Linked DNA regions of Homo sapiens. The main gene of each other region encodes a partner of the protein of the gene in region 2 in a complex. Each region holds a gene or a part of one and is shown on either strand. Other genes may lie near its edges.

Region 1 (7,677 bases), on a different chromosome or scaffold from region 2:
TAAAAATACAAAAAACTAGCCAGCCTGGTGGCGGGCGCCTGTAGTCCCAGCTACTTGGAAGGCTGAGGCAGGAGAATGGCGTGAACCCGGGAGGCAGAGCTTGCAGTGAGCCAAGATCACGCCACTGCATTCCAGCCTGGACGACAGAGCGAGACTCCGTCTCAAAAAAAAAAAAAAAAAAAAAAAGATTCACAAGTTAAAAATTATGGCCATAAAAATTAAGTTTCCAGCCGGGAGCAGTGGCTCACAGCATGTAATCCCAGCACTTTGGAAGGCGGAGGCGGGCGGATCATGAGGTCAGGAGTTTAAGACCAGCCTGGCCAACATGGTAAAACCCCATCTCTACTAAAAAATATAAAAATTAGCTGGGCATGGTGGTGCATGCCTGTAATCCCACCTACTGGGGAGGCTGAGGCAGGAGAATTGCTTGAACCCAGGAGGCGGAGGTTGCAGTGAGCAGAGATTGTGCCACTGCACTCCAGCCTGGGCGACAGAGCAAGACTCTGTCTCAAAAAAATAAAATAAATTAAGTTCCCATGAAGCCAAAGATCTTCAATCAGCAAGATGCTATAGGGCAGGGATCCCCAACCGCAGGGCTTGTGGTCCGGTACCTGTCTGTGGTCTGTTGGGAACCAAGCCTTCATAGCAAGAGGTGAGCACCAGGGTGGGGAAGGAGGGTGGGGCCGTAAGCATTAACACCTAAATTGCACTTCCTGTCAGATCAGCCATAGCATTAGATTCTCATAGGAGCAGGAACCCTATTTTGAACTGTGCATGCAAGGGATATAGTTTGTGCACTTTTTTTGTGAGAATCTAATACCTGAGAATAGTTTCATTTCAAAACCATCGCCCACACTCATACCCCCAACCACACGTTAAAATTGTCTTCCACGAAACCAGTCCTTGGTGCCAAAAAGGTTGGAGACTGCTGCTGCTACAGGGTACAGAAGTAGCAACTTTTTTTTTTTTTTTTTGAGACCGAGTCTCGCTTTGTCGCCCCAGGCTGGAGTGCAGTGGCGTGATCTCGGCTCACTGCAAGCTCCGCCTCCCAGGCCCACGCCATTCTCCCGCCTCAGCCTCCCAGGTAGCTGGGACTACAGGCGCCTGCCACTACGCCCGGCTAATTTTTGTATTTTTAGTAGAGACAGGGTTTCGCCGTGTTAGCCATGATGCTCTGGATCTCCTAACCTCGTGATCCACCCACCTGGGCCTCTTGCTGCTTGCCATGAGCTTACAATCTGGTTTGGAAGACAAACTAGAGCCATTATTAATTATACACACATGTATGCATACAAATGTGTCTGTATGTGTATACGAGATGACACTGGGATAATACTGTAAAAAAATGTTTTACACCTGCTTATTTCACTTATAATACTGTCAGCATTTTCTCTACATGTTTAAATGTTCTTTGAAGACATAATTTTAAGAAGCTTGAATTTGTTATCAGTCTCAGGTTGTATTTTGGTGTATTTAGCCAATATGCTATTCCTGATTATTTAGCTTCCTTCCCATTTTTTGGCTGCCTGTATACGATGACTATGAATAATACAAAGCACTTCTAATTAATTCTCTAGGTAATAACAGAATTGCTGTGTCATGGCCCGGTGCGGTGGCTCACACCTGTAATCCCAGCACTTTAGGAGGCTGAAGCAGGCAGATCACGAGGTCAGGAATTCCAGACCAGCATGGCCAAAATGGTGAAACCCCCGTCTCTACTAAAAATACAAAACTTAGCCAGGCGTGGTGGTGCGCAACTGTAGTCCCAGCTACTTGGGAGGCTGAGGCATGAGAATGGCTTGAACCCGGGAGGCAGAGGTTGCAGCGAGCCGAGATCGTGCCACTGCACTCCAGCCTGGACAAGAGAGCCAGACTCCCTCTCCAAAAAAAAAAAAAAAAATTGCTTTGTCAGCTGGGTGTAGGGCTCACGCCCCTAATACCAGCACTTTGGGAGGCCAACGCGGGTAGACTGCTTGAGGCCAGGGGCTCGAGACCGGCCTGGCCAACATGATGAAACCCCGTCTCTAACAAAAATACAAAAAATTCGCTGGGAGTGGTGGTGCACGCCTATAATCCCAGCTACTCTGGAGGCTGAGGCGGGAGAATCACTTGAATTCAGGCTGCAGTGAGCTGAGATCGCACCACGGCACTCCAGCCTCGGTGACAATGATAATGATACACATTGCCAAAACGTTTTCCAGAAAGATTGTAACAATTTACATTCCTACTCAGTTTGATTTCCCTCTTTCATTTCTGTTTCAAAAGAAATGAAAAAGAAGGAAAGGAGGGAGGAAGGAAAGAATTTTTTTTAATGCTCTGTTAATTTGATAAAGGAAAGGCGTGTCTTTAGGTTTGCTTATTTATTCAAACATATATTTTATGACTATACATGTTATGAATGCCATTGTATTAACAGTACTTCTGTTTAATTGACCTTACCAACTAGGTCGGCCAGTAGGCCAAAGTCTTCAAAGCCTCTAGATCCTAAGACCGTGATTTTTAGACTTTTGGAGGGTCATAGAACCCTTTGAGAATCTAATGAAACCTATAATCTTGTACCCAGGAAAATCCGCATACACCCAAACACCGTGCCCATAGTTTCCAAAGGCTGATGAACTTTACGGACCCTTCTGTCAGGAACGCATCTCTATAAGCCTATTTTCTTTGGCTATTTCCTGTTACGAAATAAAACATATATCCCACTTCCGGGGCCTCGCAGCCCAAAACTAAAACCAAAATCAATTTCAATTCAAAGCATCACAATCACCCACCCAGCTCCAACCAGGGAATCCCTCTGGCTAAGTCAGGGCCGCGCGGGGGTGTCTGCAGTTCATTGATGTCCGGAGATGAAACGTAGCACATGAAACCACTAGGCGTATATATCTTGTCCCTCGGAGAAAGAAAGTACTTACGACACATTTTCATGGCTGTAACCGATTTTGGCGTTGTAAGCTCCATTATCCAGCACTAAGGTCGTCATCTCACCACCAACCACACCGCAGCCGTAGTTGTTTTCCCTTTCCGACCCCTCTGCTCGAGCTTTTTCCGGTACTCTATGGTTTGTTGGGCGGAGCGTTAGGACGCGCCTCTGGTCACCTTAGCAACGGAGGACGCCGGAAGTCGGAGATGCTAAGCAGCACCGAATGTTAGGGGCTGTGCTTCCAAACTTAACCTGTTTATGTGGTGGCGAGATTTGACTACTATGTGCTTTCTCGCTCATTTCGTATTTGTTTTTAACTACGCAGATTAATTCGCGCAAGTTTTTTCTAATCCTGTAGAGAACCGGCTGCGTGTGTGTGTGTGTGTGTGTGTGTGTGTGTGTCTTCCAATCGCATTCTTCAGACGGTGACATTCTTTGAAGAAAAAAGTGCAAAACTTGCTCTTGGACTCACATTCATACTCTCCTCTTCCCCAGCCCACTTGCTCTTCAGGACGAAGCTGAGTGAGTCTTTCTCATCCAAAAAAGGCTTTTGGGCCGGACGCGGTGGCTCACGCCTGTAATCCCAGCACTTTAGGAGACCAAGGCAAGCAGATCACTTGAGGTCAGGAGCTTGAGACCAGCCTGACCAACACGGCGAAACCCCGTCTCTATTAAAAATACAAAAAGTAGCCGGGCGAGGTGGCGGGCGCCTGTAATCCCAAGTACTCGGGAGGCTGAGGCGGGAGAATTGCTTGAACCGGGGAGGCGGAGGTTGCAGTGAGCCGAGATGGCTCCACTACACTCCAGCCTGGGCGACAGAGCGAGACTCCGGCAGGGCGGGGACTTGGCAGGTGCGGGAGGCAGGACCTGGCTTCCGGGGCGTCGCGGGGGCAACGGCCAGCGGGCGGGGGCAAGGGCCAGCGGGCTAGGACAACTGCCAACGGGCTTGGAGGGGGGCGTTCTACAAATTCCAGGCCACTTTGAGCGCCTGAGAGAGGAGCGGGGCGGCGGGAAGGGGGCACCGCGGGGGCAGGGAGCGCAGCAGCCGCAGCGCGAAGGCGCGGGGGCCGGGGAACAAACGGTTGGCGCGCAGGCAGCCATACCGGGGCCGGAACCCGGGCAGAGGAGGGCAGCGACGGCGATGGGGAGGCTGCAGAGCCCGGGGCGGGTACCGCGCGGGAACCAGCGCGACTGCGTGGCTACCGCAGCCGTCGGTTCGTGTTGGACGGGCGCCGCTGCTGCCTCTGCTACTTCAAGAACCCCCACGACCCGCTGCCCCTCGGCCACCTGGACATAGCAGAAGCCTGCTTCAGCTACCAGCGCGCCGACGAGGCGGCGGAGCAGCCTGCGCACTTCCAGGTGCGCAGCGCGGGAGCCGCCACGGTGCTTGAGGTGGGAACTCGCGCCCTGCAAGCGCCTGGGCCCTTCTGTCGGCGCTCCTTGCCTCCCCTGGGGGCCTGCCCCATCCACCCTCCTTTCTCCAAGGCCTCCTCGCACCCTGCCAACGTCGGCCTGCCTTTCCCCACTTCTCCACATCCCGTCCTCGTTCCTATCTCCTCCCCTCCACCTGGGCTTAGGCCCGGGTGGCTGGGGCTACCCAGCCCAGTCTCCTTCCTCAGACACTTTGACCCATTATCTCCCTCTGCTCCTTCCCTCTGACCCCTCTCTAGTGTCTTCTCACCCCCAGCATCCCGTGGATGTCCGGTGCAGCCCTCCCAAGCATTCATAACCGTAGGCTTCTGCCCCAGGGGCCTCCTTTAGAACTCTGCTAGGACCTTGGTACATCAGTTAACCGCTCTGCCCTTCAGCGTCCTCTAAAATGAGATAGCAGTAGTATCTATATCATGGGGTGTTGAGATTAAACTAATTATACTCTAAACTGCTCAGTAAATGTTAGTACATTTATTTTATTTTTATTTATTTGTTCTTTTTGCCATAGGATCTCGCTCTGTTGTGCAGACTGAAGTGCAGTGGTGTGATTTCAGCTAACTGCAGCCTCATGCCTGGGCTCAAGTGATCCTCCCACCTGAGCCTCCCACCTGAGCCTCCCAAGTATCCGGGACCACAGGTGCAGGCCCACGCCTGGCTAATTTAAAAAATGGTTTTTGTGTGTGTGTGTGTGTGTGTGTGTGTGTGTGTGTGTGTGTGTGTGTGTAGATGGGGGTCTCGCTATGTTGCTCAGGCTAGTCTCGAACTCCTGGGCTCAAACCATCCTCCCCACCCATCTTCCTGGGATTCCAGACGTGAGCCACAGTGCATTTAGCACTATAGACAAAAAGAGTCAGAAATGGCAGGGCCCTTAGAGATATTCCACTACATTTCCTCCGAGAGTGGGCAGGGATGCTCCAGCTAAGGTCACACAGCCAGTAAGTGGCAGACCCTCTTTTCTTGCTCCTTGTTTTGTCCAGGAGAGGTGGGAGGGGGTCACTTCAGCCAGTTAGGCCTTGCTCTTTGAGGCTCTTTTAATCCTCCAGCGAAGAGACATAATGGGAAAAATAATGCAGAAGCAGGAGAGTAGAGTGAGGAGTCCTGGTGCTGAGAGGCCTCCCCTTTCCTTGGGAGTCCTTAGCGGGCTAGACTCTGTCACCTCCGAGGGGTCCACCTGCTTCGAGCACATAGAGGGATCTGGGCCCAGGCCTGGAGCCCAGTATCCTTTCTCCAGGCTGTGCTCCCTGCCTGGCTCCTGTGAACCTCCACCTTCTCTCTCATTCCTCTTCCGCGCTGCAGGCTCGGCTTTCTCCAGGGCAGCAGGGTTGGGCTGGGATGTATGAAAGCACTCTCAAAGCTGGCCACGCGGAGAGCAGAGTAGGCAGGCTCTTGGCCTTATGAGCACAGGACTGTTCCTCAGACCCCCAGAGCTGCTAACAGCTGCAGCTGCCCCCGGAGATGTTCTCAGAGCTTTGTCGACTCAGCTTTTGCCAATTCAAGCAGGATCTGATTCCCATGTTCTCTCGGGCTCCTCTGTCCTGTCTGTAAGTGGGTGCAGACAGCCTGTTTCCCCGAAGGAAGCCAGCCAGGGTTGCAGTCCTACTCAGGCTTACTTTGCGCCTGTATAAACATGGGAATGACCCCGGTGGAAGACCTTTGCCAAAGGTAGAGGCTCTTCCTCAGTGTATACATGGACTGTCCCCATGTCAGGTGAATTTCCTGTAGGATATTTGTTAACAAAGAAAATAGAGCGTCATGTTTCAGATTTTTCTCAGATGACTGTAAAGCCCTATATGGGTTACAGGGCATATTGTCAGGAGCATGGCTTTAGACTTGGATGGGCTTGAACTTGAAGCAGGATCCTGCTGCTCACATGTACTGGACAAGTTATACCACGTCCCAGTTCCTCTTTGGTCTTCTCATTCCTCATCTTCAATGGGAATCTTACCTTCCTCATTAGTGGCTGTGAGGATTCTGGAGAATGTTATGGAAATGGCTGGCACATTTTCCATAGTGGTACGGAAAGTAGTAGGCACTACATGGCATATGAAACATCAAGCAGTGTTTTTGGCCAACTATGTAGTATATTCATATAATGGCATATTATGTGGTAGTAAACAAAGGAACTAGAGCTATAAGTGTCAATGTGGATTACTCTCACAAACATAAAATTGAGCAAGAAATAAGTTACAGACTGATTCTGTTCAGAATGATACCATTTATAGAAAGGTTAAGAAGATCATGTAAAATAGTGCTACAGATCACAAGGATATATACTGTGTCAGGAGGGGAAGAGATGCAAGGGGGTGATGAGCTCTGGTTTCTAGGTGGTGGTTGCCTCTGATGGGAAGAGGGGGGATGTGATTGGGAATGGCTGCCTTGGGGCTGGTGCCTTGTGGCTTCCACTGTTGTTTTGCAGTGTTTTATTTCTTGGACTGGGTGGTGGGTGCATCAGTGTTTGTTGTGTTATGCCATCCATCTTTTTTTTTTTTTTTTTTTTTGAGACAAGAGTTTTGCTCCTGTTGCCTAGACTGGAGCGCAATGGCGCGCTATCAGCTCACTGCAACCTCCGCCTCCTGGGTTCAAGTGATTCTCCTGCCTCAACCTCCCAAGTAAGTGGGATTACAGGCATGCGCCATCACGCCTGGCTAATGTTGTATCTTTAGTAGACACGGGGTTTCACCATGGTGATCAGGCTGGTCTCAAACTCCTGACCTCTGGTGATCCACCCGCCTCGGCCTCCCAAAGTGCTCAGATTACAGGCACGAGCCACTGTGCCTGGCCGCTATCCATCTTGTTGTAGGTTCAGAGTATTTCTTTTTTTTTTAAGAAAAGGAAATATTTTCCTTTGGGTTACTGACAATGGAGGAATATTTTGACATGTAAAATTAAATTGGTCACAGAGTAAGATAATACCTGAGGCCTCGAGTGTTGGCTATTTACAACAATGGAAATGGAAACAGGCAAGGCTTTCCAAAAGAAGGGATCAGGGTTTTAGAGTAGGGGTGTTTTTTGTTTATTTGTTTGTTTTGAGACATTGTTTCACTCTTGTTGCCCAGGCTGGAGTGCAATGGTGTGATCTCAGCTCACCACAACCTCCGCCTCCCAGGTTCAAGCAATTCTGTTGCCTCAGCCTCCCGAGTAGCTGGGATTACAGGTGTACGCCACCACGCCCAGTTAATTTTTGTATTTTTAGTAGAGACGGGGTTTCTCCATGTTGGTCAGGCTGGTCTCGAACTCCCAACCTCAGGTGATCCACCTGTCTTGGCCTCCCAAAGTGCTGAGATTACAGGCGTGAGCCACTGTGCCCAGCCAGGGGTGTGTTTTAA
Region 2 (7,019 bases):
TCCGAATACACCACTGGATCTTTGAGATACCTGCTTTCTCTTTTTACAAATACAGGAAAACACCAATCTACAACCCATCAGAAATAATGAAGGAATGAATGAATGGATTGTTCATTTTATGTTATGTAGCCCACAAAGAGTGAAGAAGGATACCTCAAGTAGGATTTTGAAGCTATGAGTTGGTCTTAACAAGTTACACTTAAACACGCCCTGTGGTAAACTACAAATTGATTTTTGACAAGATAATTACAGCTGGCAAATGCTAAACAGAACCAGACTTCACAGGTGTACGGTCAAATGTCAAGTATGGCAAGCAAATGCTTTAAAGTTGGTACAGAACTGGGCAATGCCATGGCCTCTAAATGCCATTTTCATCTTTCCTCAACTCTGAAACAGGAGCACGAGTAAGGCCAGCTCCCCAGGTATATGGGCTAAGACTGAAAACAAGCTTGTTACTGAAGAACAAAGTGAAACTGAGACGGTGTCTTAAAATTAACAGTCAAGGTTCCTCTCAGATTTTCTTTTCTATGCCCTTTTGGTGATAGTTTTGAGGTAGTAAAATCTGGTAGAGAATCAGTGTATAGCACAGTATAAAATGCACTAGCCAGGAACAGAAAGATTAGTGCTGGTTCTGCCACTAATTTTCAGTGTGACCTTGGGCACTCAGCAAATCTCAGGTGCCCGATTTCCTCATCTGTCAAATGAAAGTACTAAAGTGCCATGCTAGATCACAAGTGGCAAACTCGTTGCTCACAGCCTGGTTCTGTTTGGCCTGCAGTCTCATGGTGACCTTCAGCAAGGCCGAGCACCTGGGGCTCAAGGCAGACACGCCACAGTGCACCCAGCCACTTCCCTCATCCCCGTTGCCTGCCTCATTAGGCATCTGCACTTGTGAGCTCAAGGCTGACACCTTGAAAACTGGTATTCTTCTAAGAGCAAAGGAAAAAAATCTCTGGAACATGAAAGGGCACAATGAGAGGAGCAGCACTCTAACAGCAGACTCCCCGTGGGGCCACAGGCTGGACAGGACCACCCCTTCCCAGTTACTCCTTTCTCTTCCTTGTATCTCTGCCAGCCCCAATTCCCTACCCTCAGTTTTGAACTTCAAAGACAGTGACCACATCCAATTCAATGGCACTCTCCCTCCCTTTAACTAATACAGAAGAGATGAACATACTTCCATTAAAATATGATAAATACTTGGTTAAAAAAAAAAAGCTTCATGTGTGTCTCGTTTCCTCCATTTAAAGACTTCCAGAGGGAAAGTATATGATATGGCTACTATTCCTACACCTACTACAGAGTGCTGCATAGACCTCATCGAATCTCCCCAACTAGCCTATGACCTTGATCATCTAGTTTGTATTTTATAGATTAAGAAACAAACTCAAAAGTTACCAACACACCCAAGGTAAAACCGCAAGCAGCAGCACCAGGATGCAAACCCCAATCTCCAAAGCCATTTTTTTTTGTACTCACCCCATGTGAGTGACAAGTGGCACAAAAAAGAGGTTGTTGCCAAAAGAAGGTTGAAGAAATCTCTATTTTTCAATCTCATCTGAATATCTCCTTCTTCTAAAACCCAAACCCATTATTAACAGTGTGAGGTCCTCAAGAGTGGAAATGCATATGAACCATGCATTTGCATCTCTAAAATAAGCAGTATTTCTGCCTGTCACCCAGGTAAGTTGCCTAAACTTTGGGACCCTGCAGCAAACCATTAAGCAGAAGTCACCAAATTCCTTCATACACATTGGAAGGGAGTGGACAAACTTATAAGGTAATACCACAGTGCTGAGCACTTCTCATATTTCCTGGGAGGAAAGCAATACAATATCACCAAAAAAAATGAAAGACATATGCTTCTAGCAATATGGCACACTGGGTCCACTGAAAACCTCTCCTCTTACAAAACACCTAGAATTGAATAAATAATAACATTCAGAGCAGTAAACTATTTGCCTTGAAAGTTCAGAGACTGTAGATACAGGAAAGCTCAGCAAGGTATAGCACTTAAGATAGAAACCCCTGAATAAAACCGGGACTGGGCACGGTGGCTCAAGCCTGCAATCCCAGCACTTTGGGAGGCCGAGGCAGGTGGATTGCTTGAGCCCAGGAGTTCAAGACCAGCCTGGGCAAAATGGCGATACCCCATCTCTACGAAAACTACAAAAATTAGCCAAAGCGTGGTGGTGTGCACCTGTAGTCCCAGCTACTCAGGAGGCTGAGGTGGGAGGACCACCTGAACCCAAGAGGTAGAGACTGCAGTGAGCCGAGATCACTGCACTCCAGCCTGGGTAACAGACCACTGCACTCCAGCCTGGGCGACAGACTGAAACTGTCTCAAAAAACAAACAAACAAACAAAAACATTACAATTAAAAAAAAAACATAAAAGAGGACTCTTGAAGGGCCACACATGAGTAAAAAAGGTGGGCCATAACAAAATACATCTGGGGGCCAGGCACAGTGGCTCACGCCTGTAATCCCAGCACTTTGGGAAGCCAAGGCAGGTGGATCACCTAAAGTCAGGAGTTCGAGACCAGCCTGACCAACATGATGAAACCCCATCTCCACTAAAAATACAAAAATTAGCCAGGCACCTGTAATCCCAGCTACCCAGGAGGCTGAGGCAGGAGAATCGTTTGAACCTGGGAGGCAGAGATTGCAGTGAGCCAAGATCACGCCACTGTACTCCACCCTGGGCAAGAGAGCGAGACTTCATCTCAAAAAAAAAAAAAAAAGACATTATAACTTGTAACAATTTATGCAGTGTGTAATCTTTGATTGCATTTTGATATTCTGGTGTTTTTTAAAAAGCCAAAAACTGAAACAACTTGGAAAGATGTTTTCTGATTTCTATCACCTATATTTTCTTTTCATTAAAACAATTTAACTTCGTTGTCTTTGAAAGCACATTTGTTAACTGCTCATGGAATCATATGATGAGCTGCCAGGCTCCCTCATCTTTGTGATTTCTCTACCACAGTGGATATGGTTACCTACTCCTTTCTTTAAAGGTTCTCCTTTCTTGGTTCCTGAGACACCATTCTCTCCCTGGCTCTGCTGCTCATTTTTTAAAAATTAATTAATTTAATTTTTAATTGACAAAAATTGGGGGAATATAATAGCATTAGCAAGGTGGGTCTGATGATGGCACCGTGGTCATGTAGGAAGACATCCTTACAACTTACTGTCAAGTGGTTCAGAAATAAACTAGAGAAAAAGCAAATGTCACAAAATATTTATAACTGGCTATCTAGGTATAGGGTATAGAGGGGCTCATCACACTATTCTTTCAAGTTTTTTGTAGGTTCCAAACTTTTCAAAATGAAAAGGAAAAAAATATTCAATAGATTGGATTAATCAGTCACTTAATCATAGCTTAAGAGACAATTAGACTGGAACAAAGATCTAAAAGAAATTACCCATAATTTAGCAGAGTCAAAAAGATAACAAATATGAGAGGCTAAAAGACAAAGAGGACAAAACGAGAAGCTCTAGCCCAGGGTTTCTCAGCTTGACTCCATGACGTTTGTGGCCAGATAATTCCTTATTATGGAAACTGCTCTGTGCACTACAGGATGTTTAGTAGCATCCCTGGCCTCCACCCACTAGATGCCAGTAGCACCCCCAACCAAGTCGTGAGAACCAAAAATGTCTCCAGACGTTGTCAAAGTCCCCTGCAAGGGCAAAACTGCCCCAGGTTGAAAACCACTGCAATCTTAACCTCATCTCAGTGGAGTTCCAGAAGGAAAGAACAAAGAGAATGGGGAAAGGCAATAGCTGAAGAGATTAACGCTGACAGTTTTTTTGTTTTTTTTTTTTTTGAGACGTAGTCTTGCTCTGTCACCCAGGCTAGAGTGCAATGGCATGATCTTGGCTCACTGATACCTCTGCCTCCCAGGTTCAAGCGATTCTCCTAAGGCTGACAATTTTCCAGAATTGAGCAGAGACATAATACTCAGATTCAAGAAGCACAATTAGCATTAAGCATGATAAACAAAAATTAATCCACTCTGACATATAATAGTGAAACACCAAACCCAAAAATATCTCAAAAACATGCAGAAAGAAGACTCAAAACCCTCAAAATTAGACTTCTCAAAAACAACAGAAGCCAAAGGAGCAAATAACATTGAGAGAGAAGTACTGTGAAACAGTACTGAAGAAAATATCTGTCAACTGAATTATATAGCCAACATAGCTCTTTTTCAAAACAAGGGCAACATAATGAATGCAAACGTGAGAGACTTTCCCACCAACAAACTTCTAGAAGAAATTTCTAAATTATTTACTTTAGGAAGAAGAAAAATGGAGGGAAAGAGAAGGTCTAAGATATAAGGAATAGCAAGCAAATAAATGGTAAATGCACTGGACAAGCTAATGTTGCCTGGAGAGAGGTAACTGAAGCTCACATCTGTATGGCACTTTACAGTTTAAAAAACTGTTCACAATTTGCTTTTATATAGGAAGAGAAAAAACTGTTCACAAATATAGCACTTCTTCCTCTTGTAAGATACCAATATAAGATACACAATCAGTAATCATTTCAAAATTATAATGCAAGTCATTATCTTACAATCGATCAGTTTAATAATTGCTTGAAATAGGTAGAGTATGCTTTTGCTTAGAAAAGTTAAGGGACCTGCCTCAGGTCTCATAGCAAGTCAATACTAGAGCTGGAATTTAAAGCCCATTTCTTTTCACACACAACCCCAAGCTCCTACTTGCCCACATCAAGCGGCCCTTTTGAAGAATAAGCAAGCTCAAATTGGGAACTCTGGTGAGTTTCAAGTATCTGGCCAGTCCCCTCACGAATCCCAAGAAGCCACACGGTGTCCTCTGCCTGAAAGGCCCTTATCTTCCCTGCAAAGCCAAATCCTCTCCCAGCTCTGAAGGGAAAATGTCAAGTCTCAACCCTTCCAGCTGTACCAGCCCACAGTGCTGCCTCCTTAAATTCCAGCTGCATTTAATATTAGTCAATACCTCAAAGCTGAGCACTCATACTGAGTCCTCCTGTGCTGTCATGATTTCCTTTCTTTCTGCCCTGGAGAGACTGTAAGCCCCTTGAAGATAAAAATCATGTCTCTAATTCTTGTTTTCCTTTTTTTCATCTCCCACACAGCCACAATAGCGATGCGTAAAGCTAGCATTTGGAAGAATGCTTGACTCATTTTTTTGTCCCCTCAAGTAAGATGTCACTCAGAAGATCTTTATGAAGCCCTAGGCCAACAGAAATGTATTTCCACAGCAAAGGAGACTTGAAAGAGAAAAAGGACAAATTCTAGAGACAATGAGACCCCTTCAAGGACTTCATTCTTTCTTCTCTGGAGGTAGGCCAGGATAATTTGAATTTTAGAAGCAGGGATTTTAGATACCCAATTGTATTATTGCATATTAATTTTAAAAACATACATATAACCCATTTAGCTAAACAAAGACTAGTTAAGACATGAATTCAATTTGGCTTAGACACTAGGATCATTCTCCTGGGTAGATTTAAAAAATGAGAGAAAATGAGTACCTTGCCAGTTCCAGGAGGTCCTGCCAACAAGACAGCTCTTCCAGCCATTTTCTTGCTTTTGATTAATTCTACTATGACGCCACATGCCTACACACCACAATGGAAAGAAATAATAAATCAATATTAAAATGTTTCACAAGGGGAAAAATCTCAGTCCCTGGCCTACACAAGTCACACACTCATCCAACTAACACTGAGTGCCAGTGCACTGCAGTCACTGTTCTAGGTGCCGAGGGTAACGAAGGCAAGGCAGAAAAGCCTTGTACTTGTGGAGCTCATGTTTTAGGGAGGGATACAAACATACAAACATTGCACACATAATCTTCATCACTACTATGAAGAAAAAGGGATGATGAGAGAGAACGAGTGGCTAGAAAGTGATCCTGGAGTGTCTTTCTGATGACATTTAATTTGATATGTGAACCTCTGGGAGGAGCAGGAGTCAGCGTTCCAGGCAAAGAAAACAGCGAATTCAGAAAATCCAAAGCAGAAACAAGCTTGGCATATCCAAGGGACAGAAAGGTTGCAGTGACCAAAGTATAGCGAAAAAGACCAGGAAGATGAGGTTGAAGAGGTAGACAGCGGCCAGAACGCAGAACAGGAACTTACAGTGTGTGGTAAAGTTTGGATTTTATTCTACATAAATAATACAAAGCCACTGAAAAGGTCTTGAAGACTATGTGTCATGCTATGATTTGTTTTTAAAAGATGGTGCTAGCTACTACTGTGTGAAGAATGCACAGTATGAGTACAAGTGGGAACACTGATTTTTGGCCCAGGGTACAGGGATAGACGCCAGGGGCCCAAATACCTCTTGAAGTTGGGAACGAAACTGTGTTTATGTTCATATATACATTTTTTCCAGAGAAAGGATCCATAGCTTTCATCAAATTCCCAGAGTAACCTATTAAGGGGTAAGAATCAATGACATAGAGTACTAGCTGGCCATCAGTGAACACTGTAAATACTGAATGTGAAGTTAAACCTATGGCACTATTAGATCCATTGAATATGTTTTGAATCCTCAAGGTTAAATTACTTTATCATCTGTTAGTATATTTTAAATACATTATAAATCTCTGAATTTTATTAACCATTTGCAGTACACATGTGTGTATATATACACACACATATTCCATAAATGGGCTATGGAACTTCATATATTTTAGAATATTTGACTATAAGGGGGGAACACTGAGAAAGTTACACTAGCTGAGCATCTATATCTCAGGATTACATAATATAAGGTTTGCTACACTGATTTAATAACTGAATACGTGACTATCTAAAAGGTGCTCTTCTCTCTGGGCAGTGACCACACTGTGCCAGAGTCTTGTGAATACATCTTATCTCTTCTACCTCTATTCCTCATGGACTGTGAAGTACCTTGGTCCCACACTTATGGCAGCCCCTCAAAAAATATGTAAGGACTACAGGCGCCTGCCACCATGCCTAGCTAATTTCTTGTATTTTTAGTAGAGAAGGGGTTTCAC

Evidence for each region. Proteins that work in one complex are often made in the same cells at the same time.
Region 1: the proteins of RUVBL1 (region 2) and ACTR6 are in contact, whole or in part, in a cryo-EM structure (PDB 6IGM), measured with the Homo sapiens proteins. Residues at the interface, in NP_003698.1 of Homo sapiens: Lys162, Thr163, Ala164, Lys165, Gly166, Thr167, Tyr209; in NP_071941.1 of Homo sapiens: Tyr217, Tyr300, Arg338, Cys339, Leu340, Thr341, Pro342, Thr343.

What each region holds. Positions count from the first base shown.
Region 1 is NC_000012.12:100,196,155-100,203,831, reverse strand, and holds the start of ACTR6 (actin-related protein 6), read right to left. Parts: upstream 3,018-7,677; 5' UTR 2,981-3,017; coding exon 2,913-2,980; exon of another isoform or gene 2,772-2,912; intron 1-2,771. UniProt on the Homo sapiens protein: Required for formation and/or maintenance of proper nucleolar structure and function. Plays a dual role in the regulation of ribosomal DNA (rDNA) transcription.
Region 2 is NC_000003.12:128,113,802-128,120,820, forward strand, and holds part of RUVBL1 (ruvB-like 1), read right to left. Parts: intron 5,614-7,019; coding exon 5,527-5,613; intron 1-5,526. UniProt on the Homo sapiens protein: Possesses single-stranded DNA-stimulated ATPase and ATP-dependent DNA helicase (3' to 5') activity; hexamerization is thought to be critical for ATP hydrolysis and adjacent subunits in the ring-like structure contribute to the ATPase activity.